2 separate regions of the Homo sapiens genome follow, and region 2 is linked to region 1. Evidence: fine-mapped expression QTL. A gene starts in region 1. The other region holds a variant in brackets. All regions are shown on one strand. Distances are from middle to middle. Region 1 holds the start of PACRG-AS3 (PACRG antisense RNA 3). Region 2 overlaps PACRG (parkin coregulated).

Evidence for each region.
Region 2: its variant is fine-mapped to the expression of PACRG-AS3 in lung (TOPMed, PIP above 0.99).

Annotation. Positions count from the first base shown.
Region 1 is chr6:163,182,800-163,198,296 of GRCh38, reverse strand. PACRG-AS3 (PACRG antisense RNA 3) reads left to right here and starts at 6,295. Exons shown (of 4, transcript NR_122120.1): 1 at 6,295-6,416; 2 at 7,315-7,389; 3 at 13,379-13,472; 4 at 14,740-15,497. All of the region lies in intron 4 of PACRG (parkin coregulated), which reads right to left. RefSeq lists an enhancer at 11,593-12,163.
Region 2 is chr6:163,222,377-163,237,873 of GRCh38, reverse strand. The region is part of intron 4 of PACRG (parkin coregulated); the gene reads right to left. It also overlaps the pseudogene LOC124901548. Among named protein-coding and RNA genes, the nearest start is that of PACRG-AS3, 38 kb to the right of the region's middle. The variant T/C (reference allele first, on the strand shown) is at 6,833.

The DNA of each region.
Region 1 (15,497 bases):
CTTACTGAGCTATCTTGACTCATTATATTAGCAAGAAAAGAGAAGTAAAATTCTCATAATCAAAACAGTTGATGCAGACTATATTAAAAATCTGTGGTCACTTTAGTGAATAACTAGTTCCAGTCGTTTGGTTAATGCATGTCCAAGGCTAGACTGAAATGCCTACTTGAAAAAGGAAAGTATGTGAGTGAATCAAAGTTTTTACTCTCACTCCAATTTTCCTCAAGACATCAGCACAGATTAGCGGGGACCTGGGGCTCACAGATAAACACGTATCTAGAAACCTCTCTTTGCATCAGTGATGATGAAGTCATTATATCCCTATGTACTGCCTTGTAAGTTTCAAGTGGTTTACATCACAATTTTTGTACTTTTTGTTTTGTGCTCCTGACATGGACAGGGATGCTATCCTTTCTACTTTCTACTGGGATGTGGCCAGTTCTGTTCCTTTGAAAGATAAGATAACCCCTGCTCTGAATTGCTCCCTTGTCAATTCCCTTAAAATGGAAGGTAAAGAGAGAACATTTAACATAAGAATAGAAAATAGCCGGCGGGCTCAGTGGCTCAGGCCTGTAAGCCCAAAACTTTGGGAGGCCGAGGCAGGCGGATCATGAGGTCAGAAGATCGAGACAATCCTGGCTAACACGGTGAAACCCCGTCTCTACTAAAAACACGAAAAAAAAAAATTAGCCGGGCGTGGTGGCGGGCGCCTGTAGTCCCAGATACTTGGGAGGCTGAGGCAGGAGAATGGCGTGAACCCGGGAGGCAGAGCTTGCAGTGAGCCGAGATCGCGCCACTGCACTCCAGCCTGGGCAACAGAGTGAGACCCTGTCTCACAAAAAAAAAAAAAAAAAAAAAAAAAGAAAAGAAAAGAAAATAGCCACCAGTTTCATAAGGACAGTAGGTTAATGGGACTGTACTTTTATGACACACCTCTAGAGCAAGCATTTACAGATGGTATTTCTTTTTTCTTCCTTTATAGCTAAAGGTGATTTCAAAATAGATGTGTACTGGAGCAACTGAAAGCACCAACAATATCCACAGAGATGAGCTGTGATTACTACTAACGGAGAACCAGTTATGACTGTATTCAAAGGGAAATGCTCTTACTGTGGAAAAAATCAGGTATTGACACATTCTACTAATATATGTATTTTTTCCTGGCAGAAAAAAGTTATCTTGAAAATTTTAGGTTCAAGTTTTTAAAAGTTTAGTAAAATGACCACGAGTTCTTCTTACTTTTTTTCTGCTTCAGTTTTCTCCCTCCTTCATATATTTATTTATATTTTCTATCATTTGCCCATTTACCAAGCTGTCTGTCCGCCTCTATCTATCTATCTATCTATCTATCTATCTATCTATCTATCTATCTGTCTAGTCTGTCTGTCTAGTCTGTCTACATGTCTATCCATCTATCTACCTGTCTATTTGTCTGTCTATTTGTCTATCTGTCTAGTCTTTCTTTCTACCTGTTTATCTATTTGTCTGTCTGTCTGTCTAGTCTTTCTGTCTGTCTGTCTGTCTCTCTAGTCTTTCTTTAGCTCTGTCTTCTGAACATCTGCTCACCCTGGGTCTTGTGTCATGTGCACATGTATCTGTTTATTTCTTGGCCTCTCTTCCTTCTTTGATTGCAGAATATGATAAGTGACTCTTTCAAGAAACCATCACTGAAGTCTCACTGAATTCTGTCAACAGTTCCAACGACGACAACAGGTAACATTTATTGAACCATCACTAAGTGCCAAGCAGATTGTTATGTAATTTATTTACACTGTGTTGCCTAATGTTGCCTCAAACCCTGCTGAAGTAGCTGTCACTCTTCCCATTTGACATCTCTAAGGTGCAGAGCAGCAACTCCCCAATGCTGCACAGCAAGGTGAGGCCACAGGTAAGGCTCCCAGTAGCCCTAGGACAGGAGAGGTCTTGGAGCGGATACATGTTGGCGAAAAGAGTGAAAGGTCACTTTAACATTTGGGTCGTGGTTGACCAGGGGAGGGACGACGGTGTCATTAGCAGGGACAACAGAGCTGTTGGGCGCTGTCCGTGAGCAGCAATCATAGTAGCTCTCATTGATTAGAGTCTCCATGTGCTTATCATGTGCAGGGCACGGTTCTACTTCCCTAACTCTAGATGATCAGGGAACGTTCTCGCGGAAACGCTGTGCGAGAAATGCTGATTGGGATCTTGGACCTGTTGCTTTTGAGGTGGGCAGGAGATGAGCTGGAGGAAACTGAAGGAAACTGAGCCAGCGACTGGAGGGACGGGGTCTGGGAGGGAACCAGCTCGTAGGGGGTCTCTGGGATCCCTGCTTCTCCAGAAAGAGCAAGAGGGAGCTGCGCCCTGCTGGAGAGCGGGAGAATGGAGGCGAGAATCAGGGAGGGAGGAATGAGTGAGAGAGATCCCGAGCTGGGAGGAGATGCTGGGGAGCCAGCGGAGACACCCAGGGGCGGGCGCGGGAAGGGGCGCAGGAGGAAGCCAGAGCTCTCCAGGGGCCATTTTAGAATGGCCGTGGGAACTGAAACTTTGAAAGCAGCGTGACTGTGTGTCTTTAGGCGCAGAATCTCCATTTCCCGGCAGGGCAGGGAACGCAGCACAGGGAGGCTGAGAGGGGGGTCGGGCGGCCTCCACTGCCACCTCCTCAGCCGCCGAGGCGCAGGGAGCCCTGGGGGAGGTTAGACCCCTTCCTACCTGCACTCCCTTATCACAAAATGTCTTTAAAGCACACTTCTGGGAAGCGGGGGAACGATTTCGCCGCTGGAAAAGGGAGTCACACCACATTGAAAACACTGGGCTCTAGGGCCATGTGGAAAGGGAAGAGGCCTCCAACACTCCTCTCCATTGGACGCCTGTCTTCATGGGTTTCACGGTCAAATGTATGATGTAAGGAGAACCCACATGAGGAGATAGTCTTGGAAGTGTGGTCAGGGCGGCACCTGTGGTTAAACTTCTCTTTGGCAGCACTCTCTTTGGATGCAACAGCTTCAAGACTAGATGGAGATTTAAGGAATTATAAATGAAATAAACAATTAGCCAACATTATTAGTGGTTCACGATAATGAAATGTGAGAACAATCAAATGCCAATCATCAAAGCGTGGCTGAGAGGCCAAGGCATCCCCGATGCTTTCTCTGTTATGGGGGGATAAAGAGGCTCCTTCAATTGCTACCTTTGGAAACATCACCTCCTTTTGACATGGTGAGAGTCGGGGTCAAGAGAAGTGGACTCCCTCTACCATCGACTCCAGATCAAGGCTCAAGTTGAAGAGGACCAGTCCCAGGAGGGAGGAGAGGCTCACTGTTCAGCAAGCCCGTGGACACCGATGTAGAGGGGAGGCACTTGAAGAGCCCCAAATATCTGATGCCTGCAAAGTGCACTGATGACCAAAAGGGAGGGAGGGGCGTGGGGAAGGAGGGGAGAGTGAAGGAGGTGGGAAGGGAGAAGAGCAGAGGGAAGAACAGCAGGCGTGGGGTTGGGGGGCATTGCACTCCAGTCTCAACAGGCAGCCCCATTCCTGTGGCCCAGTAGGCCTGCATGTTCTAATCTCCAGGACTGATTTTACTTGCTCCAAAATACTTGCACATTGATGCCTTCACAAATAGGCTATTTTGATGAGTGAAGCAACCACCGCTTACAAAAAAGCTGTCCTCTTCAGTGTAGGTATGCCACTATGACTACAAACACCTCGGACACCCCGGCTGCACCCTATCTAGTCCCAGGAATGACTGGCTGTCAGGGTCCCCGTCAAGTCCATTCTGTGCTTGATGGCAGGTGGCCTGTGGCTTGTGCAGCCCAGAGCCAGACACCACCAGCCTGGAGGCGCCGGGGTTTCCTGCCTTGGGAAAGGCAGACAGATGGAAATAACAAGATGAAGAAAGAAAGATATGAAAGGAGGGAAGGAGGGTGACAGGGAGACAGGAGAAAAGACAGGGAGGGAGGGAGAGAGGGGGAGAGAACAAAAGAGAGACATCAAGAGGAAGAACTGAAACTAAGTTCTGGAACTTCAAAAGTAAAAACAGAACCCCAGGAACACTGACTATGGAATCTCTCCTCTGTAGAAAGGAGCACTGAGTCTATGAGCTACAGGGGAATGTGTAATCGGGCGCAGAACCTCCATCACAGATGGCCTCATCTGTTGTCAAATCTGATTAGTATTAAGAAACAGTCTTACTTGAGGTCAGGAGTTTGAGACCAGCCTGGCCAACATGGCAAAACCCTGTCTCTACTAAAAATACAAAAATTAACCGGCTTTGGTGGCCCACACCTGTAGTCCCAGCTACTCGGGAGGCTGAGGCAGGAGAATCGCTTGAACCCAGGAGGTGGAGGTTGCACTGAGCCGAGATCGCGGCACTGCACTCCAGCCTGGGTGACAGAATGAGACTCCATCTCAGGAAAAAAAAAAAAAAAAAGAAACAAAAAGAAACAGTTTCCTAGTCCAACATGGATTTGAAAAAGTCTCTGATTCTATGTTTTCTCCAATATGTTTAAAATGTGTACTACATTTAAAATACATTTTTATTTGAATTACTTTTAGGAATACTTTCAAACTATGACGGGCTGGTACAATTTCTAACTTTGAATATTGAAACAAAAATTATCTCTGAGGAAAATTTGTCGAGTTCAATATAACAAAATAAAAATATTTTTTATTTAATAAAAATAAAGAAAGAAAGAAATCCCATGTGTTCACGTCTTCATTTAGTGTTTCCCTCCCAGTTCTCAGGAGGCCACCATGCCGCCCTGTTCCGCACATAGCACTGGGTTCTTAAAAATGGTCAGTCTCGGTATTTCTGGCCGGGCAGCCCCTGGGAACAATCGCCTTGTTGATAGTTTTCCACACTTAATCAGAGAATTTAAAGCAATACAAATGGAATAGTGGTGAAAGTACCAACTCTGACCTTAACTCTTCATACATTGTCTTAAGTTTAAATTCAGCCCTCAAAAACAAATTTAAAACAAAATGAAAGTTTTTCCTCTGGATATTTGAAAGACTGACACCCATTTTCACTCTCTCAATCTAAGTGAAGCCTTATGGAAATGATTAGCACACAAGGCATATTTCTATAGTTGGATATTTATAAAATATAACGTGGCACATTAAAATTTTTCTAGACTCTATCACCACCTTAAAAATGAATATTTAAAAATTACCCTGCAGTTACATGCCAGTGTGCTTGAAATTTATTTTTATAAATATTCATTTGAATTATAGGCTTCAAATGTCTGTATCAAGCAATAAATTGTCATTTTAAAACCAGGAACAACAAAGAGTGACTGTTTATTGGGTTTAAAAAAGGCTTTTATCTCTCACAGACTTTGGGATCCGGTTTAAGGGTTGTAGAATGGTAAGAAGTATCGGGCATTTGGAAAAAATGGAGATCCAAGGAGTGAAGAAGTGTGTCAGATCTTTTTAAGCAGGAAATCGAGTGATGGCTGCCTACTGCAGGACGTCACAGATGTCTGCACCTGTCCAACCCTTGACAGATGCTCCCAACACACCCAACCTGGGAGCCAGTCAGCCTAACCATCTTCCCTGCAAATACACACAGTACAAAAATAAAATGTTCTCTCATCAAGTCTAAATAGAGATCCACATAAGCCATCCATGTCAGAGAACTCTAGCTTTGTACGCTATGATAAAAAAAAGTATTTAAAATGAAATAAACACCTTAATTCATGCTCATCTTGAGACACACTTACCAAAGTTTAAATGTTTAAAAATAAGGCAATAGACATTTTTATGGTTGATAACAAACTACAAATTTGTCTGGGGGAAAAAATCATTAAATGTTTGACAAAAGAGCTGTGATAAGAGATAAAGAACACAGTATTCACTGTCTAAAGAACCAGAGGGGAAAATACAGCTTGTCCCCGAGCCCACATTTTCAACTATGTGTGCTATGATTACAGTTCTAAACAATGGATACTGTGTCAGCACAGAGAAAAACAAACAATAGATCTTTTTCTGAAAGTATCTGTAGGAAGACCATACAAAACAGTCAACAAGGGAACTGAAATAATCCTTGCATTCTTTGCAAAAATAATACTTTAAGGTTCCTTTGCAAGAATGTTGGTATTCTTTTCCACTGTGCATTTCATTTTCCTTCATTCACTACAGATTTTCTCCCAACCTGCACCTGGTTTGAGCAGCAGTCAGCTGGCTTCTGGGGACTTTCCCTATTTCATTCCCTCTAACCCCCAGAGACTCTGGAGGCAGCTGCACAACTGTGCTTTCTTTAGTTATAAAAGCTAGCTTGTGACATCCTTTGTGTGATTCAGTTAAAAACTGAATTAACTGAAATCAATTCAACAACAACTGCCCCGGTGCTTCCCCGTAGATAGCACCGCTGGTCAGTTCGGGAGGGGATGGGACATTGAGGAGCAGGACAGTCTTCAGGAAGCTTACAGTCTGCTTTGGGGTGTGAGACACCAGGCGGGGTGTGGCTTTCATTGGGAGGGACTCCTATGAAGTGTTACAGGGTTTAGAGAAAAAAGGTGGCTGGAAATGGAAGATGAGAGGATCCTGGACAACCTGGGGGCAGAGGGACGTCATGGCTCTGAGTGGGAGTGGAGAAGATGGCATTTTGGTGGATGGGTGGAGGAAGAGCATAGGCACAGATGGCCACGTGGAGTGTGGTCCACAGATAAGTCACCTGGTGGAGTGCAGCCACAGTGCCTGAGTCAGGAGGTCTCAGCTCGTGAGTGTATCTTAGCTCAACGATACACTCAAGATCCTTGAGCTAGGAGAAACCCTATAAACCACCTAAGTGGATGCCTTCTCTTTAGAGAGGAGAGAGCTTAGGTCACAGAGAGGCTGTGACCTCCCCCAAGGGTGGTGCAGAAAGCGGCCATAGCAGTGAAGGGGAAAGGCCTCGTGGCGTTGGGGGGCCACTCGCCATAAAGGTGTGGGGGTCAGAGAAAGGGAAGATCAGAGGACACTGGAACTTGACACTGAGCTGAGGAATGAGACTGGGTGGGATCATTCATAGAAATTTCATCTGAAGCCTGGGAAGGAAGTAGGTTTGGGGGGTGGCGGGAAGGGATGATGGTGAAGTTAGTTTTTTAATTATTGCTTTTATTTATGTATTTATTGTTTGCAATTTTGAGGTCTAGTGTCCATTTAAGTGGAATGGCTTAGGAAAAGGTGCTCATATTTTAAGCTGTTCTCCTGGACTAAGGGTGAATACATAGTCCCTCTTTTAACTTGAATCTAAGTAACAGGTTTTTTGTTTGTTTGTTTTGTTTTTCAAATGATAATATGTAATATTTTAAATTCAGTATTCTAATAAATGCTAAATAAGGGATTTCTGATTTCAGTTGTTTCAGGAACACAGTCATCCCTCAGAAATGGATTGGGTGACAAGTGGTCTGCATGCTGCACACGGGCACTGGGTGAGTGTGCTTGGAGCTGTTTGTCAGGACATCATCAGCAATAGACAGAACACGAGGGAAGTAATCAGTGAAAGAAGACGAAGTTGTTAAGTTGTTTCTGACTTTATCTTTGGAGCGGGCTCACAGAACATTTGAGTGGGCTTTTTGGTATAAGAGAAAGAGCCCTACACTTTTGCCCAATTCTAGTTCTAGGCTCCAAAACAAATTTTACTAGGGTTCTGAACTGACGGGTTAGACTGTTTTTGTTAACTTTTATTCTTATAAATATTTTTGGCCATTGCAGTCCAATCAGAAGAAAAGTAGAAAGCAGGTCATTTTTACCTTCTCTAAGAAAAGAAATCCAAAATTTACAGGAAAGCCCATTCTTGAAAGTCCCTTGTGCTGCTAGGCAGGGCCTTTCGATTATTTTCAGACAGATGTTGAACCTTCAGAATTTCCTCCGTGCATCGGGGTCACTGACTACTTGTGTCTAATGCAACTCTGCACTAACTAGATTGTGCGCCGACCTCTATTTTCACTTTCAAACCTCATATTCCAACGTTGCTCAAGGTTGACTGTCACTGACTGGGCTTTTCTTTACGACTGTACTTATGAAGAACAAATGTACTTGTAAATGTTTGGGGACTTCAAATTTAGTTTACAAATGTGTAGTCCTCATTGAAGATTCGATTTGTATTATATTTAGGCAAGTTTTCTGGCTCTTAATGGGGTCCTAATGAGTCACCGATGGTAAGGCTTCAGATTCAGACCTTCCTGTTAGGATGGGGATGAGCTGTTTGTCCTCATTTGCCAATTATTTGGAAGAGAAAACCAATGTAATGCAATCGGAATCCAGTTGTATTATTAAGACCCGCATTTGAAACCTAGTTTCTTCTATCAGAAGTAATTTTTCTGATTTTTGGATTATGTACTTCTCCTTCATATAAATGAATGTTACTGCTTTTGTGGTGTTACCAGACCTAGCTTATAGAAATAAATGACAGGCCACCTGGGGGTCTGCCCGTGCAAGCATGAACTAAGCAGCAACAAGCAGTATGCCCTGCGGTGACCAGTGTGTCAGCATTCACATAAGCCCGGGACAGTGAATGCGGGCCCTTGTCAGTCACGGGCATCAGGCGCATGGCACTGGGCACAGCTGACTGCCTGTTGATGCTGATGGCTGGATGGCTGCATTTAAGTACACTTTCACAAAACTCATTTGTATCTCTTCCCGAAGAAACCTAAATGGAATTAATTTGTTGGAGGGCTGCAATGTAAAATTTTTAAATAGAGAACAAAATGGAGTATGTTGCTGTTTCATGGAAGAGAACACGGGAGAAACTAGCAATCTGTAAGCTAAAAATTGATGGCAGCCCCTGCCACAATGAATAATTGGCAATGCCATTCAGCCTTTAAAGGTATCAGATAATGAATAAGCTGGGCATAAGGCATCTAGTTCCCTTCCATTATTCTCCAATAGGTTATGTAATAAACATCCATCCCTGAAAGATAATTCTGTTTTTCATTGTTCTGTAAGAGAAGATAATTCTCTCTTTTTTTAAATTGTCCTGGAAGACATTCTTAAAACACCTTGTTAACAAACTGGCTAAATGTCCACCTACAGAATTGCACTAACTAAAACCAAAATTAGTCATTAGAGCTGTTATGCATTTGTCAGCAAATCCCTTATGTCCATCTCATGCCTGACTTTTCTTTAACAAAACTATGTTATACGTAGAACTTAGCAGTACAGATGATGCCTGCTTTGATCATACAAACGGGCTTTATACATGAATTGTAATTTCCACTTTAATTTGTTTTTGCGAAATCTTTCCTGCAGTATCATTCCATCTCAGCATTCCCCAACCACCTTTGACATTTTAATCAATTATCCTCTCATGTCTTGTTAGGCCACAAACGTATGGGCTCTATTTTTTCAAAGAAAAGTATGTTGGTCACTTACAAGATGGATCCAAATGTAAAAGATGTTTTTCACGTTCTAGCGTACATTCCTAATTGTTCTTAGTCAATGTCTGCAAATGAATAGTATGTGGAAATATCCTAAGCCCATGCTTGCTTTGTACAAAGGAATCCTTTCCCCTCTACTGAATGCTATCTGGATGGGCAATGACGACAGTTTTTCAGATCTCAAACACAACAGAACGACACACCAAGTCAGACATGAACTAAACTGCAATTGTAACTACTGAGGGAATTTTTATGCAGATTATGTAACAAAAATGAAACTAGACAAAGTGTGAGAAAGGCCACTAAAATAAAACGGTCAGGCCACGCTTTAGAACTGTAGAATCAAAGAGTCTTCACCTTTCTAGGCTGGAGACGACCTTCTCACTCACGGACCAAACCCTTGGTGTGACCTCTATTTCCCAAGAGATGAGCCTTCAGGCCTGAGGATCAGTGGCCTGATTCTTATAAAGGAGACGGTGGACTCACAAAGGCATCACGTCAGTATTTTAACAAGCTCACCTCTAAGAGATGACGTTAGATTTTCTACTGTAGCTTCGGGGGCTTAAATAGACACTCCTTAATTTAGAGTTAGTAAGCTCAATCATTTTGATCAGGTACAGGTTTTTAGCAACAACTGTCATCAAAACAGGTTTTCCAGTAGCAAATGAATTTGATACTGACTAAACATTTGGTAAAAGATGACTATGCACATGCCAAAGAAAAGAGTGACTTGGGAGAGCTTTTTCTATACAAAGAATGGTTGACTTGGGGCTCCTGCCTCCCCGATGTTCTGATGCAAACCAGTCCTGTGTGTGGGGACTCTATTTGCACAGATCACATAGTTCCCTGTAGGAAAAGATACTCATATAAACCCACACAACTCCAACATAGCTCAACAAGTAGAATTTTAAAAACTAATATTGTAAGGGGTGTTTCAAAGAGATATGCTCATTTTGGGACTTTTTAACTCTCCCCTCATGTTTCCTGCCTTGTTGAAGAGTGGACAATTTATTTGGTATTGACTTAGTGTGAGGCATGCCCTAGACCCGAGGAATATAAAGGGGACTGGGAGAAAGCCCGGCCTCCCTGGAGCTCTTCACGTGATGACAGGCGCAGATCAGCGGACAGGCGCGTAACAGGAGGTGCTAAGTGCGCAGGTGGGGTCACGTGCCGCGTCACAGCAGTGCTGGAGGAGAGTCCTGACTCATGGCCTGGGATGCTGGGGTTCCTCCCCAGAGAAGCTCTTTTGGACCTGGGAGAAGGAGTAGGACTTTGATACACCATGGAGGTGAGAATCCACTTTGGGATGGGAAACCCACTGAGTGAGGTAGAAAAGAGGGTGAAGTAGAAAAGGTGGGATTCGGGGCTGGGAAATCCAGCAGGGTCTCTGTGTGCTGCCGATGGGTTTGGATGGTTCTGCAGGTGACGGGGCTGTCAACGTTGCAGCACCATGATGAAGTCTGGGGTGGAAAGCAGATACATTCATGGAGGGGAGGAGCGCGGGCTCTCAGTTGAGAGGCGTTCTCAGCAGTGCTGCAAAGAGATGGGGCCAGTCCTGAGCCACTGGAAAGGCGGGCGGCGAGCACAGAAGCCTTTCACAGGCCACTTGCACAGGCCTGGGTGCACTGACTGGCGTGGGTAGGGTGGGCGAGGGTGGCGTCCAAGGTGACACTGAGGTTCCAGCAGAGGCCGCGAACAGATCAGTCTATGGAGGGATGTTGGGCATACAACGGAGGAGCGGATGTGAGAAGTCAATAATGAGTTCAATTTAGGCCATCCTGAGGTTCAGGTGTTGTATCACATACAGTTGAAACTGTGATTTGGTGTTCAGAGGAAAACAGACTTTGAGAAAAACAGATTTGGGAGCCACTGATAGGGAAGGGAAACGGATGAAATTACCCGGGACCCTGTGGAGCTTGAGGACGGGGGGTGTCTCCCTCCCTGCAGAGCAGGTGCCTGGAGAGGAGACAGAGCCCGTGAAGTGGGGGCAGGAAAGGGCGCTGATGGCGCAGAGCCCGGGGAAAATGTCAAGAGCCCCAGGAGTGGATGCCCCCAAACAACCGTCAAATTGGTCTTGTGTGTGCGGTGAGGGCGACGGGAGGCCGACTAAATACCTCCTGACTGTGCCCCTCAGCGGGTAGGAACAGAAGCACCTCCAGGGAGGGAGCAGAGCGGTGGAGAGGAAATGCATGCTGGGTTGAATGACATCAAACTACTCGGAAGCAAAGGAACAGCCTCATGTTTTAGTCTGTGAGATGGGGCCAGGGAGCGCCTGGTCCGGCAGGAGTGAGAGATGCACACCTGCACGCGACGGCTCCACTGGGCAGGGAGATAGGGTGTGTCCAGGGGAAGAGGCTGCCAGAAGCGGCCAGAGGAATCAAGAGTTCCAACTCTTAGTAAGAATCTAAGTTGGGAGAGATGAGACTGTGGGCACAGCCAGGCAAAACAGGCCTCTCCACCACACTGGCCCCATGCTGAGGACAGAGGTGGCAAGTTTAGAATGACAAGTAGTCTGTGTGTGTGTGTCTGTGTCTGCGTGTGTGTGTGTGTCTGTGTCTGTGTGTGTGTATCTGTGTCTGCCTGTGTGTTGAAGGGGGCACACGAGAGAATTCCCTCAGTAATCTGAGGGTGTCTGAGAGTGGAGACAATGAGAATGTTGCTTCCATTTGCCATTGGACAGCAGCTCTCCAGGCGTGTGCAGCTTTGCAGCCAGCAGGCTATGTTGGGGTCCACCCCTTGGCTCCATTCTTGGGGGAAGGGGGAAATCTGAAAGCCTGCCAGAGAAAAGGCCACACAACGAAGCCCCCTGGCTAGGCAGCCCACTATGCAGATTCTATAAGGGGGCAGTGCCTGCGTCTCAGAGGGTGCCTGCAAGCTGAGCTGAGAGTTAAGTGAAGGCCAGCAGAAAGGCCCAGTCACTGTTTAAAGAAGCCCTGTGACATATAGGCTGGACCAAAACAGAGAGAGGAGGGGGCACGCCCTCCCCCACTCACTGCCTGGGAGTGCTGGGGTGATTTGCTGGGGCTTAGAGTAGATGGGGGTGGGGTCAGCAGTGGGAGAGGAGACACAGGGAAGCAGCTCTGGAGCTCAATGCAGCAAAATTCTCCCGATGCACAACCTGCTGAGAGGCATCCCTACTGGACCCATGAGGCAGTCTGGGGCTCAGGATCAGGACATTACACGGAGATACAGAGAAATAAAGAGCATTTAATTTTGGCCTTCAATTATGCCCCTGTGAAGTTCATGCCCACCACAACTGCAACTAAGCTAAGGTGGTCGCTTGCATTTTGTGTGGGATTAAATTGATGATGCCGCGATTTCCTCCAGCATCTTATCTCAGGCATCGGGAACTAATCTGCAGCAGGGCCACCATTTATATTGTGGGCACTCAATTTGTTCTTTTTCTTAACGAATTCTTTGATTATCTAATACTTTCCTTTAAAATGGCTTATATATTTGCAGTGAAATTTACCAAGTGTTGAAGTAACAGTAACATCTTTAAGTCCTGTTAATTTGAAAAATGTAGATTTCCTATGACAACCCTGAACTGTCCTGGAACTTTACTCATGCTGAACTTCAGGACATCTTATTAAGCTGGATCCATGTTATAGAAATTACGTGGATTGTTTTATCACAATGTCCCCTGATCTTTCTTTCTTAGCTTAATTTTCTACTACAATCCAGGCTTGTTTTGGCCAATTGTTCCCACTTGCTTTTATCGGTAAAAAAACAATTGTGATGACTCCCAGCGTACGGCTGCACTCCTCCTCCATCTTTCTCTCTGTGGTGCCATGTGCAGAGGTGCCTGGAGTGTGGTTAGATCCTTTCCCCATCCCTGGCTACAAACAGCAGTATTTGCTTCTGCCCTATATGGTGGTGTGCTAAATTAATTACTTTTTGGTTTCTGCTAATTAATTGCATTGGTGTTCTGGCTTCAGCCTTCCTGGCCTTGCAGGTATCATGCCATGAAAACAAAACAAAACAAATCTTCCATGATCTGGCCTAATTTCTACTGCTTGTCCCATTTCCATTTGCCCACCAGGTCTCTGAATGTAACCAAATTGTTCTCCTCTTATCATTCCCATTCACTGGTGTACTTGTTTGTGGAGCCTGCAGAACTGCCTTTTTCAAGAATGGTGAGCTTTCTCTCTCTTTTTGTGTCTCTGGGTGCCTGTACGTAGGTTTCTTTATATTAATGCCTGAAGTAGGCAAAGTTGCATTTCTTTATGTTGCTAACCTTTCTCGTGCAGTGCGGCAGGACAGCAAGCAACCCAAGGCTCTGAGTTAACTCCTCTCAAACACAGGGATATTCTTAGGAGCTCATAGCACCTGTACCACTTAGAACAATTAGAGACATTCAAGCTAGTATGGCCAATACGAACATTGTTTATGTGCTTCCTTTTTCGATTTGGGTTTTCGAAGCCCTTAGTAATTCTTAGTGAAATGGAATAAATAGAATTGCACCATTATTTAGGCACCGCTTTTTTCTAGCAATTTCCATTCCAATTGGACACTGAAAATTTCACCATAATTTGTCATGGCCACATGAAATGTTATCAGGGGCAGTGTTACTGAGCTAGTATGGACAGTATAAAGAGATGCACTGTCTTTAATGTAGCATTAAAGAAACAATTTATGTACAGGATTTACCAGACTCTTAAGTAGACCTAAACTGAACAAGAAATGCTACTTTAAAACTTCCAGTTACTCTATGTTCTATTATCTATGCATCCTGCATATTAGCACTGGGGTAAATTTCTTAAGGAACCGAGCACAAGGAGCTAAATTTGCACATTGATTTTTGTCTTTTATCTGCAGCTTAAGGCTAATTTAAAAGGATGGTGAGGAGATTCTATTTTCAACTGGCTGAAGTTCAATAAGAATAAAATAAAACACTGTTGTAGCAAACTCTTTCACAGTGGAAGTTTGGCAAAGCTAAATCTCATTCCTTTCGATGTGCTCCAGTACAGCCAAAATACTGTTCCAGTGAGTAAGACACCCATTAGAGTGATGAGCTTCCTACAGAACAAGAATCTCTCCATATTTTATTTTAAACCAAACCAGTGTTGCATTGCTTTGTATTAAGAATCCAAAAGGAAATATTGTGTAATACAATCAGTAAAAAACCTACAGTTTCGTTACAGTTATATTTTTATCATTGGCCTGCGTTTTCCTAATTTCAGAAGTATACGTGATCATTTTAGATACAGGAAATGACTTCTTTTAATTTTTCTTGTAGTGAAAGTTTTACAATTCTTTAGTCAAGCCTACTGATTAGCTTAAAAACCCTAATAAAAGGAGTGACCACACATACATCTCTGTAGGTATAAATCAAGGTTGGGAAATTTTAAAGGTGCATTTCTTTTTCTTCCTTTTTTTTTTCTTTAACCCTATGTCTTCTAGGCAGCTTGGCCTCTAAATCTGCTTCCCACTGATGGGAAGAGCTGACAGAAGCTTTAGAGAGGCACAGGGTGAGTTCCTAAAACCAGAGTCAACACACACTCTTCATCTGTTTTGTGCTTCACTCCCTGCTCATCTTCCTAAAACACTGAGTTTGGTCATATCATGTCCTACAAGTTGTCAATGATTTCCCATGATCTTGTCTTCAGGATAAAGTTCCTTAGTCAAAAGCAATGAAGACCTGACCTAATCTGTAAGGCAAAATCAACACTTTTTAGCCTGGCCTTCCATGCCCTTCCATGCCCTTCGAGCCCCCAGAGCACCCATGGCAGTCCATCTCTCTCTACTTGTCCAGAGGGACACTCTCTTAGAGCCAGTGGCTCCTACTCACGGTTCCCCGAACACGTCGTGGGAATGTTTGCCTTCATACCTTCCCAGATCATTTTCCTGATCTCAGACACCCTCCGTCCTCATTCATTCACTCTTCAATTGTCCAACAAATATTTGTTGCTCATGCAACCTGGATCACCCACATAGTTTCAAGACTGCATCTTCTAAACTATTTAAATCCTATCCATTCTTCAAGAAATGTTTCATGACGCTTCCTTAACTGCTAAGGACCCGCAGATTCTCTTCCTCTTGGGACTCACACACTGACTCATCTCCCGATCTTTTGGTGCTCAGCAAAGTGGAGGCTTCTGTTTTGGACTTAGAGTCAAGACCATTAAATAAGACTATGCTCTAAAAAGTACACCTCCGTG
Region 2 (15,497 bases), 40 kb before region 1:
GAACTGGTAACTATAATCTTTTCCTGATGACTTGGCTTAGAATACTGAGCAAAACATGTAGTAATAACCTATTAAGTTCAATAGTGTGAGCCATTTTCTGGTAGAACTTCTATAAAGAAAGAGTTTTCAAGAGAAAATAGGTTATAAAGTGATTAATTTGTGACCTTACACTAATGTAATTTATGGTGCTTCAATTTCTTTTCATATAACCTATCTTATGAGAACAGAAATGTGGCCTTAGAGACAGTAACTGGGGTGACAAAGAGACAACTCCAATTTACTTTATCTTAAAAAGGACATTATTATATTTTGAATAATGTTACCGTTGGCCTTACATTCATTTTCAACAAAAGTTGAGCATTTTTGTTTTCCTTAAGCAAGAGAAAACATGAACTAGAGCTAGATTTTCTCCCTATTTAATAACATCTAGTCAAATTAGCTATGTTGGTAGAAAATATGTATATAAAAAATACTTGCTAAGATAAAAATCCATTTACAGAAGACTGTGTCTATCAAGAAAATAAAATTACTGCAAATTAGGATGTATGCAATCCCAATATATTTTATGGAACAATCACGTGACCAAAAGTTATACTGTCAGACTAAAGAAATGGAGGGTAAACCCACCCCCTGCCAAAAAAACCCCACCCACCAACTAGCCAATCAAACCACTGATATATATTTAGGTTTGATGAAATTCATCATGCTAAGTAATTAAAGGAAATATCTACACATTACGTATCTCAAAAGCCTGTATCAAACCATCAATGATATAGTTTGGCTCTGTGTCCCCAGTCAAATCTCGTGTTGAATTGTAATCCCCAATGTTGGGAAAGGGGCCTAGTGGAAGGTGATTGGATCATGGGGGCGGAACTTTCCCCTTGCTGTTCTCATGATAGTGAGTTCTCATGAGGTCTGGTTGTTGTAAAAGTGTGTAGCACTTCCCCCTTTGCTCTCTCCCTCCTGCTCAAGCCATGTAAGATGAGCTGGCTTCTCCTTCAGCTTTTGCCATGATTGTAAGTTTCCTGAGGCCTCCCCAGCCATGCCTCCTGTACAGCCTGCAGAACTATGAGTCAATTAAACCTTTTTTCTTTATAAATTACCCAGTCTCAGGTAGTTCTTTATAGCAGTGTGAAAACGGACTAATACAATCAACCATTCAATGCCCCACTAAAACGAAGTGGCAAACTCTTGGTACAGCGGCACAGTCTCCACCTCTTCTTGCCATCTTTTCAGTCCCATAGCAGACATTTGTAATTGATTATGGCTCTTTATTCACCCGAGGGTAGGAAAAGACCCGGAATCTTGTGTAACACAGTCATATTTCCCATCAGAGTTCTAAAATGAGATGAAGTTCATCTGCACTTGTGTGAGACTAAATCTTCAACCAGTCAGTAGACAAATATTTATGGAGTGCTCAAAGGACAGCTATGCTTAGGAATACGTAGAAGAGATTCAACTCAGTTTCTGCTGAGATTAATTTCCAAAGGGGGAAAGAAGCTAGCAAAGCATAAGTATACATAAGTGAGTCACAATTACCAATAAATGAAAGAGTATTCAGAAGAAGGCCAGCTCAAGGTGGCACTAGGAGGAATGGAGAAGGGCAGGGTTGTTTAGGAAACCTACCTGGAGGTCAAACTACATTTTGGTTTGAAGAAAAATAAATGTGCTTTGGCAGATGGGAGGAGAACAGTTCTATTTAACATGATTTACCCTGAGGTTCATACAGGGTATGCCATACCCTGTGTGGCATATCCCACCATCTTTCAAAGTATCTTGTAGCCATTGCTGCCCTGACATAGGCAGAATCACAAACAGATTTTTTCAGATAAATAAATGCTTGGAGATCAGTCATATAACAAGTAACCTTTGGAAGAGCAGAAAGTTTGCCAGTTTTCCCAAAGCCTCTCTTTAAAAAAACAAAAACAAACAAAAAAAACAACTTTTTTCCTTTCTTTTTTAGTGTTTAGTTGTTACCAAACCAAAGCCTCTCTCTTATAAGCAATATTTGACAATAATAAAATATCAAACCACACTATAAATTGACTCACCAAGGGCAGAATTGAAAAAGAGAACTGTACTTGTTAAAGATTCCTTTGGAGGAGTGTAAGGAAATTGTGAAGAATTAAAAACAAATCCCTATAATATAGATGATAAAACCTTGTGAAATTGAAAAAATTTTCCAGAGAGAAATGTATAAGAGGAAGTGGACAATATTTCTGATAATTTCTCTTAGGTGCTGGCAAGCTGTTGAATTTAGGCACATTTCCTTGCTAGTCTATAGACATTAACACAGGGGATGAATGGCATGATCTGGCAAGAGGAAAACCCCTTCTCCAAGGAGAAGGACCTTGAGGAATTTGGAAGCAGATATTTCATATTCCACAAGTAAAAGAACACCATGCTCTCAAGACATACATTTTCTAGTCACCAACACCACCTCCTCTCAGTCAAGTGACATTTTAGTGGCAAGCTTCATGGAAGGCAGTTACGTACAATGGGGAAATTGAGAAATTATTTTAATGGAGCCTGTGTCTCCAGAAGATTATATGATGCTTTATCAATGGAGAAGAAATATATCTGTATATGCTTCAGGATTATCATTAGACTGTCACATGCAAAAGGGGAAATATGACAGGTTTGGGGATATTAGAGAGCAGCAGGAAATGTGGTGCGTCTGAACTGCTCGAGTCATGCCCACAACTCCCATTCAGCCGGCTTACGATGGAAGAGGTGAGCCCCTTCTCATTTCAGGCAAATTCTTCCGCTATGTCTTCCCACCTCCTCAGGGCCCTTGTACAATAGATTATAGCCTTTCTTTTTTGTACCTTCAGTTTCATGGAGCTCATATCTTTCTTCATTTAAACATAGTCGTGTCTTTTCGTCTTAAAACTAGCAAGTCTCTGTCTAACCCAAAACGTTACCAACATTTGGCCCCACTTTCCTTCGTCAAAATCAACTTTTTAAAAAGAGTTGCCTGTACTTGCTCTCTTCCTCAACTCTCATTTATTTTTTTACCCATTATAATCTGGCTTCTGTTTTACCTCTATATGAAAACTGCTTTACCCAAGACAGCATTGTTGCTCAGTTCAATGGACATTTTTCAGCCTTTATTTTACTTTGCCTCCAAGAGAAATTTTTGACTCTGCTCTCTTTGTTTAAACACATTCTTCTTTTGGTGCCCATAGAAGTAAACTCCTGTGGTTTTTGACCTGCATCTGTGGCTACATCTGCTTGGTCTCCTTTGGGAGCCGTCTGTCCCTTAAATGTAGGTGTTTTAGTCTGTTGGGGCTGCTATAAAGGAATGCCGAGGCTGGATAATTTTTAAGGAAAAGAGGTTTATCTTGGCTCATGGCTCTGCAGGCCATACAAGAAACATGGCACCAGCATCTGCTTCTGGTGAGGGCTTCAGGAAGCTTCCATTTATTGTGGAAGACGAAGGGGAGCTGGTGTGTGCAGAGATCACATGGCCAGAGAGGAAGCAAGAGAGGAGGAGCTGCCAGGTTCTTTTCAACAACCAGTTTCTGCAGGAACTAAGAGTGAGAACTCACCCACTCCCATGAGAAGTCACTCCCCTGAGAATGGCACCAAGCCATTCCTGAGGGATCTGCACCCCCCATGACCCTCCCACCAGGCCTCACTTCAAACATTGCAGATCAAATTTCAACATGAGACTTGGCAGCGCCAAACAAGCTATATCCAAACCATACCCAAACTATAGCAGAGGGTGAGACTCAGAACTGCACCCTAGATCATCTTCTGTCCCTGCTCTGTGTCACTTTCTATGGACCATCTCCATCATTAATGACAAGAGTACTCTTCCTTTAATGATGATAGTTATCCCCCAAGACCTGAACACTCTTAAATGGCTGAATAAAATCTATTACTTCCCACCAGGCATTTCTTATTGAGCCCCAAGACAAAATGTCTTATTATTTAGGGAATATTTCTATTTGAATGTCTCTCATTTGGTGAAATCTTAACAATGAAGGACAGTGCAACTTACAATTTCCCTCCTTCCCTACAAACGTGCTCCTCATTCCATTTCCCCTTCCAGAATTTTGTTTTCAGAACAGAAATCCAGAAGTTATCTTTTACTCATCCTACTTCCTCACTCACAATTCTGTGTTATTAAGACCTGTCCTTTATATGTCTTCAATATTTTTCAAATATTTCCATTTTCTCCATCTCCTCTGCCCCTAACACAAAGAAGTCACTGCCATTTCTCATGTGGACAGCTGTATCCTGCCCCCTCCACGGCCTCTTGGACTGTCTTTATCCCTTCCCATCTTGATGTTAAAATGTTTCCTCTTATTTTCTTGAACTCATAATATGTTTTCTCACACAGTGAAATGCATGGCAGTTATTTCTTTGGGCTAGCATGCAAAAGTCATTTAGCCACACAGGGTAATTTAGAAAATGGCATCTCTCAAGTTCAAGGCTGGTGTCATTTCTCTCCCTCTCTCTCCAAATTACCATCTAGGTCAACTGTAAAATGCCCCTGCAGCCTCCGGCCTCCTGCATTCTACTCCATTCCTCTGTTTTTACTGGCAGGTGAACTTTTTGTTCATCAATCAGTTCAGCCATCTCTTCATCCATCCATTCACACACCTTCAGCTTTGTCCCTAAATAATTTAAATCTCCTAACAGAGATGTAGAAAACATGAAAGTAGGTGAGAAAAATACAAAGGATAGTGAGCAGGTTATTCCCATTGTGAATTGAAGATGGATTGCAGCAAAGAATACTTCTTGGGGGACAAATTCCTGCTGAGCGTGTTCTGTAACATCACAATACAAGAGAAAACTTAACAGAAAATGTGTTTGAAGTTGCTGAGACCATCTCCTCCCCAGAGATGCCCTTTGCTACACTGGCAGGGCCACTCCAGCTGTAGTCCCAGAGGGATGCGGCCCTGGTGTGAGGGGCAGTATTTCAGCTGGAGGAGCAGAGTTGGGAGAGGGCTGAGGGCTGGTTTCGGGGGTGGAGGCTCCTGGAGGAGGGGTGGAGGGGCTGGCTGTGCAGGGCCAGGGCCTCCTCCTGGGAGCGTGAGCTGGGGGGTAGGTGAGGCGTGCTCTTTACCTTGCTCTGCTCTCAGGCCATGCCTGGACTGTTCTTCCTGCTCTGGCACCTCAGGGAATCAATCACTTTTGTCTCTTCCTATTGCCTGCTGTTCCTGAACAGGGCTCCTCTTCTCGCTGGTCCACAGGAACCTGTTGACCTTCCCCGGTGTGCCTTAGGGAAGCGGAACACCCTCAAAGTATAAGTGTGTTTTGCCATGAACAAGGCCAGGACCACAGAGCCACCTTCCTCTGCCCCTTCTCATCTCTGCTTCTTATTTCCACACCTTCCCACCTTTCCCTTCCCTTACTGCACTGCCTTCTTCCTTCTCCTCTTCCTTTGTTCCTCCTTTCCTCTTTTTCTTCCTTTTCCCTTCCCTTCTTACTAAACAAAGTAAGAAGTGGACAAAGTGTGGGCGTTGGTCTGACACGCAGGCTGGAGCTAAGAGCTACTCTACCAGGAGGACTTGCAGGTTGGGGCTCGGGCACATTGCAGCAGCGGAGGAGCCTCTGGAGTAGCCAGGCCCCAGCGGGACACGGCACCTGGTGCAGGTGAACTCTTCTCTATTATAAGAGTGTGACGCTAATCTTCAGCTCTCCTGGGTTCTCTTCATCATAAATATTCCTGGAATGAACATCACTGTGTTGGCTTGTCCTGAGGCACTCACCTCAGCCACTCCCTTCTAGGCTGGACCTTTGTGTTCTGTAGAGAGCTGCCTTGGGTGGTAGAGGCTGGCCTGAGAGTCCCAGCAAGTCAGTGCCCACTTCAAGTCATCTTCAGAAGTAGCTTATTTTATTTGTTCTAAATAATTATCTGTCCATTTCAACATATACTGCAGATGAAATATCTGCCAATGCAGCATTACATAAATACCAACGTAGTGCCAGCTCCAGCTGAGAGTGAAGCCGGGACTTGTTTACCTACAGTAACTGCGTGCTCAGCATTCTTGGGTGAGGCTGTTTATCATGGCCAACCTGCAGCCAGTGGTCTGGAGAGGCTCTTGCACCTGTATGGTCCCACCTCAGAGAGGCAAATGGATCTCTGCTTGTTGAGAGTGATTCTGAAACTATGCAAGCTCATGGATAAGGGGCTCTGACTGGCAGATGGAGTTTGTTGAGGGTAAAAGGAGTCACCTGGTGGGTGCTGGTCCTGGGGAAGGCATGCAGTCAGCCAGGATTGCTTGCCTTTTCAAGCCACCCTATGTGAAGTCACCTTTTGCTGAGGCATCCTGGCTCAGCGGATCTGGGCTCATAGTTGTGAAGACCTGCAAAGTTGCTGATCCATCTGTATGGAATTGTCTGCATCCGTGCAGGGTGTGACAACCCGGCATGTCACTGTGGTCAGAGCAGCCCGGGGCTCTCCTGCATGCAGCGCCGGTGCAGACTTCCAGCAAGCCCATCTGGGGACTGTCCACTGCTTTATAAAGGGTATGGGCAGGGAACTCTGGCCATGTTCGAGCAGGATGTGATTAACATGACACAGACTACTGTTTTCTTGTTCTAACAGCATTTTCAGTGGCATGGCAGTGAGTGGGTCACAGGACATAAGAAAAGACAGTGGATGAAGTTAAGAGAAATAGAAAAGCCGCAGGAAGCAATTTTGGAGGACGCCAGTGCTGCTGGCAGGAGAAACCCCAGCCAGCAAGCCACGGCTCCCCCGTGGGCCTGCCCACCTTGCCAGCCTCCCAAAGGTGGTGCCGCTCCCAGCCGCAGCCCCATCCTATCTTGAGAGCCCCTGTTTGGGGTCTCCACTTTCTCTGCTGGCCCAGAGGAGCCG[T/C]TGCCTTTGCAGGGATCTTCTTAGTTGTGCCTGAAGATTGTGGCACCCTTGACCTCTCTCCTCTGCCATCTCAATACCATATTCATTTCTGTCCCGCAGGCTTCTTTCACGAGGCTGTAATTACTGGCAGGGACACCTTACCTACCTCCTCCTCTCTCTCCAAATACTGTCCTTCGAGGCCTAATTGAAGGCCTCTCTCCTCCAGGAAGTCTTTTCTGAATGTTGGAGGCTCTGATAACCTTCCGGGTTTTTCCCTCCCTAACTCTGCACCTACAGCAGTTCGGCATTACACACCATCCTGCGTTCTTCATTTGTTTATTCAACCACGTTTTAGGGATTTTGAAGGTGAATTACTGTTGCTGTTTCCATCAGCAATAAACAGACATATAGACACATAGTTGGACACATTTGGACACGTCAAATAAGTCTTAAAGGCCGTGGAATGAGTCTAGTTATATATGTTTTTCCATTCTAGATGGCATGAAATTTAATGTCTATTCAAAAGTCGAAACTATAAAACTCCACTAAGTATAAGCTTTCCAGATAACTAGTTTATTTTCTCCCTGGAACTTAAAATAGGAGGAGGAAAGGGAAGTCTAATTCTGAGAAAGTAGGATCTCTTTCGGATGTTTTGTCCATTAAATAGTGAATATTTTATTACACTAAAAAATTCTATGCATGTAGACTTACAGTAAGTACTCCATATACATTTTAGGCTGATAAATTGGAATAACTGGTATTCTAAGGGGCATAATTTCCTAACATAAGGACACAGTTACCTGTGCTACAATGAAGAGATTAAAAATTGGTTATTGAATGCTTTATCTTAAAGGAGTGCTGTGTAGTAAAGAAGATTCATATTTGCTAAGCTCTTTAAAAACTGTAATGCATGGTGCAAATGTTACATATATAGACGTACATTCTCTTTGCAAAGAGCTTTCACAAAGGACAATGTACTATGAAGATGGCCACTTGGAAGTAAATAGGACTTTGAGGCGTTTCTGATGCCACTGTAGAGAATGTCAACAATGGCAGTATTAAATTTGCTGTTTTTTATTATTTATTTCAATGCCCAGAAGCAAACTGTTGAATAATTTCACCATCAGGTTACAATTGAATTAGGTTCTAAATTATAGGAGGTTAGTGGGACTCTGTGGACCTGAAATTGACCTCTGCTGTCGCCTGGAGACAGTTCTGGGCATCTTGCTGACAACTGCCGCTAAAGGAATTGTGGAGCCTGTTGGTCCTCATGAGAGGAAGTCAGCGCTTTCCTCATCCATCTTTTCTTCCTTCTTAAGAAAAATTCTTCTGTCCCAAATTTCTTCCCAGAGGAGGGTTCTCCTAGAACTATTCAAGGGTCTCTTCCAACAGCATTTGACAGGTGTGGAATTACTACTTAAAAAAGTCACGAGACTAACTAACTGAAGGGGAACGATGGTGCTTGACTACGAATGCCACATTTGTGCTCAGGTGCAGGTTATTCAAGCTGTGGCTGAATGTCTTTGGAACCATTACTGGAGCAAAGCCTGCAGACAACTCCTTGCTAAACCATAAAATGATGATTCTGGCAAGCAAAGATCAGATGCAATCTGAGTGCTCTGAGAAGCAGAAGAATCAGTGCTTTGAAAGGGATCACAAATACTGGATTTTTTGTTGTGGTGGTGGTGGTGGTTTTGTCTTTTTTAGAGGCAGAAGGCAGAGGTCTCACTCTGTCACCCAGGCTGGAGTGCTGTGGCACGATTATTGCTCACTGCAGCCTCTAACTCCTGGGCTCAAAGTGATCCTCCTGCCCCAGCCCCCTGAGTGCCATAGGTGTGCACCACCTCTCCCCTGGTTACTTTTCTGTAGAGACGGGGGTCTCACTATGTTGACTAGGCTGGTCTTGAACTCCTGGACTCAAGTGATCCTCTTGCCTCAGCCTCCCAGAGCATTGGGACTACAGGTATGAGCCACTATGCCTGGCCTGCAAATACTTTTAAATTGAGATATGAAATTTAGCCCTTTCTGGTTCAGTAAAATGTTTACTATTTTTATAAACAAAACATCAGAAGGAGATTCTACTTTCTCAGAATTAGACTTCCCTTCCATCCTATTTTCAGGTCCAGGGAGAAAGTAAACTGGTCATTTGGAAAGATTATTTTCAGGAGTTTTATAGTTTTGGACTTTTGAATTAGACAGTAAATTTCAAGCTGTCTGGAATGGAAAAACATATATAACTAGACTCATTCTGCGACCTTTAAGACTTATGTGATGTGTCCAAATGTTGGTCACTGTGCTAGAGAATCACTCCAGTCTGCATTTATTCCAATTTATAAAGGTTTCTTTTTATTTTCAGCTGAAATTTTTACTTTGGGAAATGTTACAAAAATAATCATGATCGTTCACCATCGTTCCTTTACTTCTGCAGTATTGCCGAAAGTTTTAAAAAAGTGACTGTACTTTTTCCATAAAAAGGAATTCTTTGGTATAAAGTTGGTTTACTAATCATACTCTAATGGCCGTGCACCCGTGCACTATCTTAATCTATTTGTCATAAACTGACCGCCAGCATAATTTTGAATGAATTAATGAATTAATCCAGCACATGTTGAGCCTCCGCTGTGTGCCAGGTACTCTTCTAGGTTTACTTATTCCATTTTTTTTTTTTTTTTTTTTTTTTTTTGCCTGCTTAAAGATTTCCAAAGCTTATCTGCCTCCACTGATGTCCATTTCAATCATTTTCAGGCGTAGATTAAGAACACCCTCTGGGCTCAGGGACTCTGACTACATCTTCTGATACCACAAGTACTTCAACTTGCTCTCATTTGAAGAATCCATTGCCTGGAGAGCTGGTCAAATTCCTGGAGGGTCATGGATTTTTGTCACACTGATTAGTGGTAGATTGAAAAAAAAATAATTTTCTTGTTTTCTAATATACATATATATCTTAAACAGGAAACAAATATATGTGTCTTCTCTGTATATTTAAAAACAATAACCTTCTGGATACATTTCCAGACTCTGAACTCATGCTTGTTTTGATGTTCATTGTGGTTTTTCACCAACACTGCCTGTCTGTATGATCTTTAATCACAAGTTAATTTTTAAAAGCTTCATTAGTGTGCTGTTTTTCTAAGCTGAAATTAGTTTTTTCGACTTGGACATATCAGCTTAGCTGCATTTGCCTTATTTTCTTATTATCATAACCTATGGCTGGTGGTGTCAATTTGATGAGAGGCTGTGCTAATAACACCCAAGTTGTGGGTTTCATTCTCGCCACAGGGAGGGCAGTTCGTCTCAATGGAACAGGCAGACCTATCTTGTCCAGTCTTGCAAACGTGTATGAGGGTCTGGGTGTAAGGGTGAATGTTTGCTGGACCTGGGTGTTAAAGCTTTGTAGTCCCCATCAGTATAAAGCTGTTTCTGCTCCTGCTGACCTGGCTCAGTGCAAGTCCTGTAACGATGGGTAGGCTGCTGGCTCTGCTCCTTCATGAAGGACGGCACACCCATGGGAATGGCTTACAGTCCTCTCGTTATCTTTCCGTTACATATATTGGTGCATCTTCAACTTCTAACTCATTAGAACAGCAGTGCTATAGTTTGAATATCTGATCGCGCTCAAATGTTGTGTTGAAATGGAATCCCCAGTGTTGGAGGCGAGGCCTGGTGGGAGGTGTGCTTTGGTCATGGGGTGGATGCCTCATGGCTGGGTGCCATCCCTGCCCTAGTGAGTGAGTACTGGTGAGGTCTGGTTGTTAAGTACGTGGCACCTTACCTCCCACCTCCCTCTTGTTCCTGCTTTCATCTTGTGATGTGCGTGCTCCTACTTCGCCCTCTATCGTGAGTAGAAGCTTCCCGAGGCCTCCTGGGAAGCAGATGGCAGCACAATGCTTCCTGTACAGCCTGCAGAACTGGGAGTCAATTAAATCTCTTAAAAATTACCCAGCCTCAGGTATTTCCTTATAGCAATGCAAGAATGGCCTAATACAAGCAGGAAGTCATGTTTTTACATGCCACAAAAATTCCCGTGGAATCTTATGTGGTTTACCATTATTTTTTTTAACGTACCATCATCATTTATAAGGTTTGAGGGAGGCATATCTCACACATGAGTGTGAAATCCTACTCATCACACTTATGAACTACAAAGGATCAGTTTACCATGATTTTTAATCCCATTGGCTCTTTTAATTAAAATAGACATCAATGATGCAAACACTTTCAAACATTTTTGGAGTTTATCCTTTACTACATCATGGGTCACGGTGGAGGCTGCTGCTGAGTACTGCCCCAACCCTCCTAGAGAACAGGTTCTCCCCAGGCACTGGGATGTGAGCCACCGATGGCTGGGTCTCACCCTGGGAATTGCCCTCTGCCTCAGACAGGAGCTGCTTCACTCAAGGTTACCCCTTCCTCCAGCAGCCTGCATGGGCTGGCTAATGTATAGGCACAGAGCCCCAGCCCCTTGGCCTCAAGTGGAGATTGCCTGGGACCTCCTCCAGGCAGTCTAACCTCTCCTGCCCAGCCGTTTCTTCCTCTTTCTTCCCACCTCCAGCGTTATTAAGGCCTAACTGACAAATAAAAACTATATACATTTACAGTCCGCAATGTGATGTTTCAACACATGTACGCCATACCCTGTGGGATGATTACATCAAGCTTATTAGCATATCCATCACCTCACATGCTTCTCATGTTTTTGTGGTGAGAACATTTAAGACCTACTCCCTTAGCAATTTTCAAATATACATTATTATTAACCAGCGTCACCAGACTGCAGTGGATCTCCAGAACTCATTCATCCTGTCTCATCAAAACTTTGTGCCTTTTAACCAACATCTCCCAATCCGCTTTCCTTCCCCAGGCTCCTGCTAAACACCGTTCTACTCTCTGCTTCTATGAATTTGACTTTAGATTCCACATATGAGTGAGATCACGCAGTTTTTGTCTTTATGTGACTGGTATATTTCACTTAGCATAATGTCCTCCAGGTTTATTCATGTTGTCGAAAATGAGAGGATTTCCTTCTTTTTATTTTGTTTTTTTGGTAGAGACAGGGTCTTGCTGTGTTGCCCAGGCTGGTCTGAAACTCCTGCACTCAAGTGATCCTCCTGCCTCAGCCTCTCAAAGTGCTAGGATTACAGGCATGAGCCACTGTGCACAGCCAATTTCCTTCTTTTTAAAGGCTGAATAGTATTCCATTGTGTATATGTACCACATTTTCTTTATCCATTCGTCGACTGATGGACACTTAGGTTGATTCCATGTCTTGGCTACTGTGAATAATGCTGCAATGAAAATGAAAGTGCAGTATCTCTTCAACATACTGATTTAATTTCCTTTGCATCTATATACCCAGAAGTGGGATTGCTGGATTACACAGTATCTCTATTTTTAACGTTTTGAGGAACCTCCATACTGTTTTCCATAATGGCTGTACTAATTTACACTCCCACTAACAGTGCGTAAGGGTCCTCTTTTTCCACATCCTTACAAACACTTGCTATATTAGTTCATTCTCACACTGCTATAAAGATACTACCTGAGACTGGGTAATGTATAAAGTACTCACAGTTCTGCATGGCTGGGGAGGCCTCAGGAAACTTACAGTCATGGCAGAAGTGGAAGAGATACACCTTACATGGTGGCAGGTGAGAGAGAGGGAGTGAGGAGCTAAGGAGGAAGAGCCCCTTATAAAGCCATCAGATCTCGTGAGAACTCACTCACTATCATGAGAACTGCATGAGGGTAACCACCCCTGTGATCCAATCACCTCCCACCAGGTCTCTCCCTAGACATGTGGGGATTATGGAGATTAAAATTCAAGATGAGATTTGGGTGGGGACACAGCCAAACCACATCACTTGCTATCTTTTGTCATTTTGATATTAGCCATTCTAATAGGTGTGAAGAGATATCTCATCATGGTTTTAATTTGCATCTCCTTGATGATTACTGATGCTGACCATTTTTTCATGTACCTGTTTGCCATCTGTATGTCTTCTTTTGAGAAATGTCTATTCAGATCCTTTGCCCATTTTTAAATTGGGTTATTTGTTTTCTTGCTATCAAATTGTTTGAGTTCCTTATATATTTTGTATATTAACTCATAGGATTTTTGGTTTGCAAATATTTTCTTCCATTCCGTAGGTTATCTCTTCACTCTATTGATTATTTCCTTTGCTGTACAGAAGCTTTTTAGTTTGATATAATCCCATTTATCTAGTTTTGCTTTTGTTGCCTGTGCCTTTTGGGTTATATCAAAAACAACAACAACAACAACAAAACTACCTAGGCCAATGTCACGTAGTTTTCCCCTATGTTTTCTTCTAGCAGTTTTACAGTTCCAACTCTTATATTTAAATCTTCAATCCATTCTGAGTTGACTTTTGTATGTTGTGAGATAAGGCCCAGTTTCATTTTTCTGCATGTGGATATCCAGTTTTCTCAATACCATTTATTGAAGAGACTGTCCCTTCCCTGTGTTATGTTCTTGGCAGCTTTGTTGCAGATCAGCTGAATATAAATGTGTGGATTTATTTTTGGCCTCTCTATTCTGTTCTATTTGGTCTACATGTCTGTTTTTATGCCAGCACCATGCTGTTTTGATTATTATATCTTTGTAGTGTATTTGGAAATCAGGCAGTGTGGTGACTCCAGCTTTGTTCTTTTTTTTTTTTTTTTTTTTTTTTTTGAGATGGAGTCTCACTCTGTTGCCCAGGCTACAGTGCAGTGGCATGATCTTGGCTCACCACAAGCTCCATATCCCAGGTTCAAGTTATTCTCCTGCCTTAGCCTCCTGAGTAGCTGGGATTACAGGTGCCTGTCACTGTGCCTGGCTAATTTTTGTATTTTTAGTAGAGATGGGGTTGTGCCATATTGGCCAGGCTGGTCTTGAACTCCTGACCTCAGGTGATCTTCCCACCTTGGCCTCCTAAAGTGCTAGGATTACAGGCATGAGCCACCACGCCTGGTCCCAGCTTTGTTCTTTTTGCTCAACGTTGCTTTGGCTATTCAGGGTGTTTGTGGTTCCATATACATGTTAGGATAGTTTTCCTATTTCTGTGAAAAATGCCACTGGAATTTTGATAAGGATAGCATTCTCAGTCTCTTATAGGCGTTATTTCTGTGCAAGAATCTCCAACTCAGAGCCCATTTCCAGGGAACCTGACTAACAGAATCACTCTGTTTCTACTTTATTTTTCATCCACTGTTTAGAAAAGCAATTCAATTAGCAAGGCACATCTTCATAATGCATGCCATTCTGCCTGTTTGTGGACCAGCTCCCTCTCCCTAAGCATGTTTCTTCTGGTCCTCAGCCAGTCGAAAGCCCACCACATGCTAAAGCCAGCAAAAAGCAGTCTACCTCAAGCCTTTTCTGACCACTTTCTCTTTCCTGTTCCCTCTTCCAAAATTAAATCCTCCTGTAACCCTTGATTTAGGCTTCTTCTTTTATAGCATTTACTTTTTCCTGTGCATTACAGTCGAGTCGTCTAACACTCTCATTAGAATGCAAGCTTCTACTACTTCCATCCTTCTTCTGCTTTCCCATTGTGTGTGGAGCTCAGTGGGCACTCAGAAAATGTTTTCTCAATGGGACACACACATTTTTATTCTCAGTATTTTAGTTTATCCTTAATATTCTTTTATTTTTTATTTTTCATTTTTGAGATGGAGTTTCACTCTTTTTGCCCAGGCTGGAGTGCAACGGCGCAATCTCGGCTTACTGCAACCTCTGCCTCCCACGTTCAAGGGATTCTCCTGCCTCAGCCTCCCAAGTAGCTGGGATTACAGGCACCTGCCACCATGCTCGGCTAATTTTTGTATTTTTAGTAGAGACAGGGTTTCACCACATTGGCCAAGCTGGTCTTGAACTCCTGACCTCAGGTGATTCACCCGCCTCGGCCCCCCAAAGTACTGGTATTACAGGCACGAGCCATCGCGCCCGGTCAATGTTCTTTTGTTTTACTTCTTTTTCCCTAGGTATGTTATACACAATCATACCTACTACATTTTTCAGTAGAAGTTAATTGGTAATTATTTAAGGCAAGATCAATCTGTACACTAAGTTAAATAATCACAATATTACAGTCTCATTTACTTTTCCTTTTTGAGCTACATAATCATTAACTTTCTCTACGGCATTCTGATATTACTACAACTCTACATGATTTTTCAAAAGTAACATTTGAAATGTTGTAGTCAATTCTCTTAATTACTTGGGATGGAGGCAGTTTGGACCCAGTAATTTATATATGTTAATACTTATAACTGTTTATTTATCTGATGTCAATATTGGGTTCTGCAGAATCTACATTATTTCTTAGTGGTTCAAATCTCTTAATTTTTCTTTCTTGGGCAGATTGGGCAAATGCTTCAGCTCTTTTAGGATGGCCATTAATTCCACTCCATCCTTGTTATTTGTGAACGTGTTTAAAAGTGTTTTCCGTGCAATGCTTTTGTTCACATATATATATTTTTAAGTGAGACAAGGTCTCACTCTCACCCAGGCTGCAGTACAGTGGTGCGATCTCAGCTCACCGCAACCTCCGCCTTCCAGGTTCAAGCGATTCTCCTGCCTCAGGCTCCCAAGTAGCTGGGACGACAGGCACCTGCCACCACACCTGGCTAATTTTTGTATTTTTAGTAGAGATGGGGTTTCACCATGTTGGCCAGGCTGGTTTCG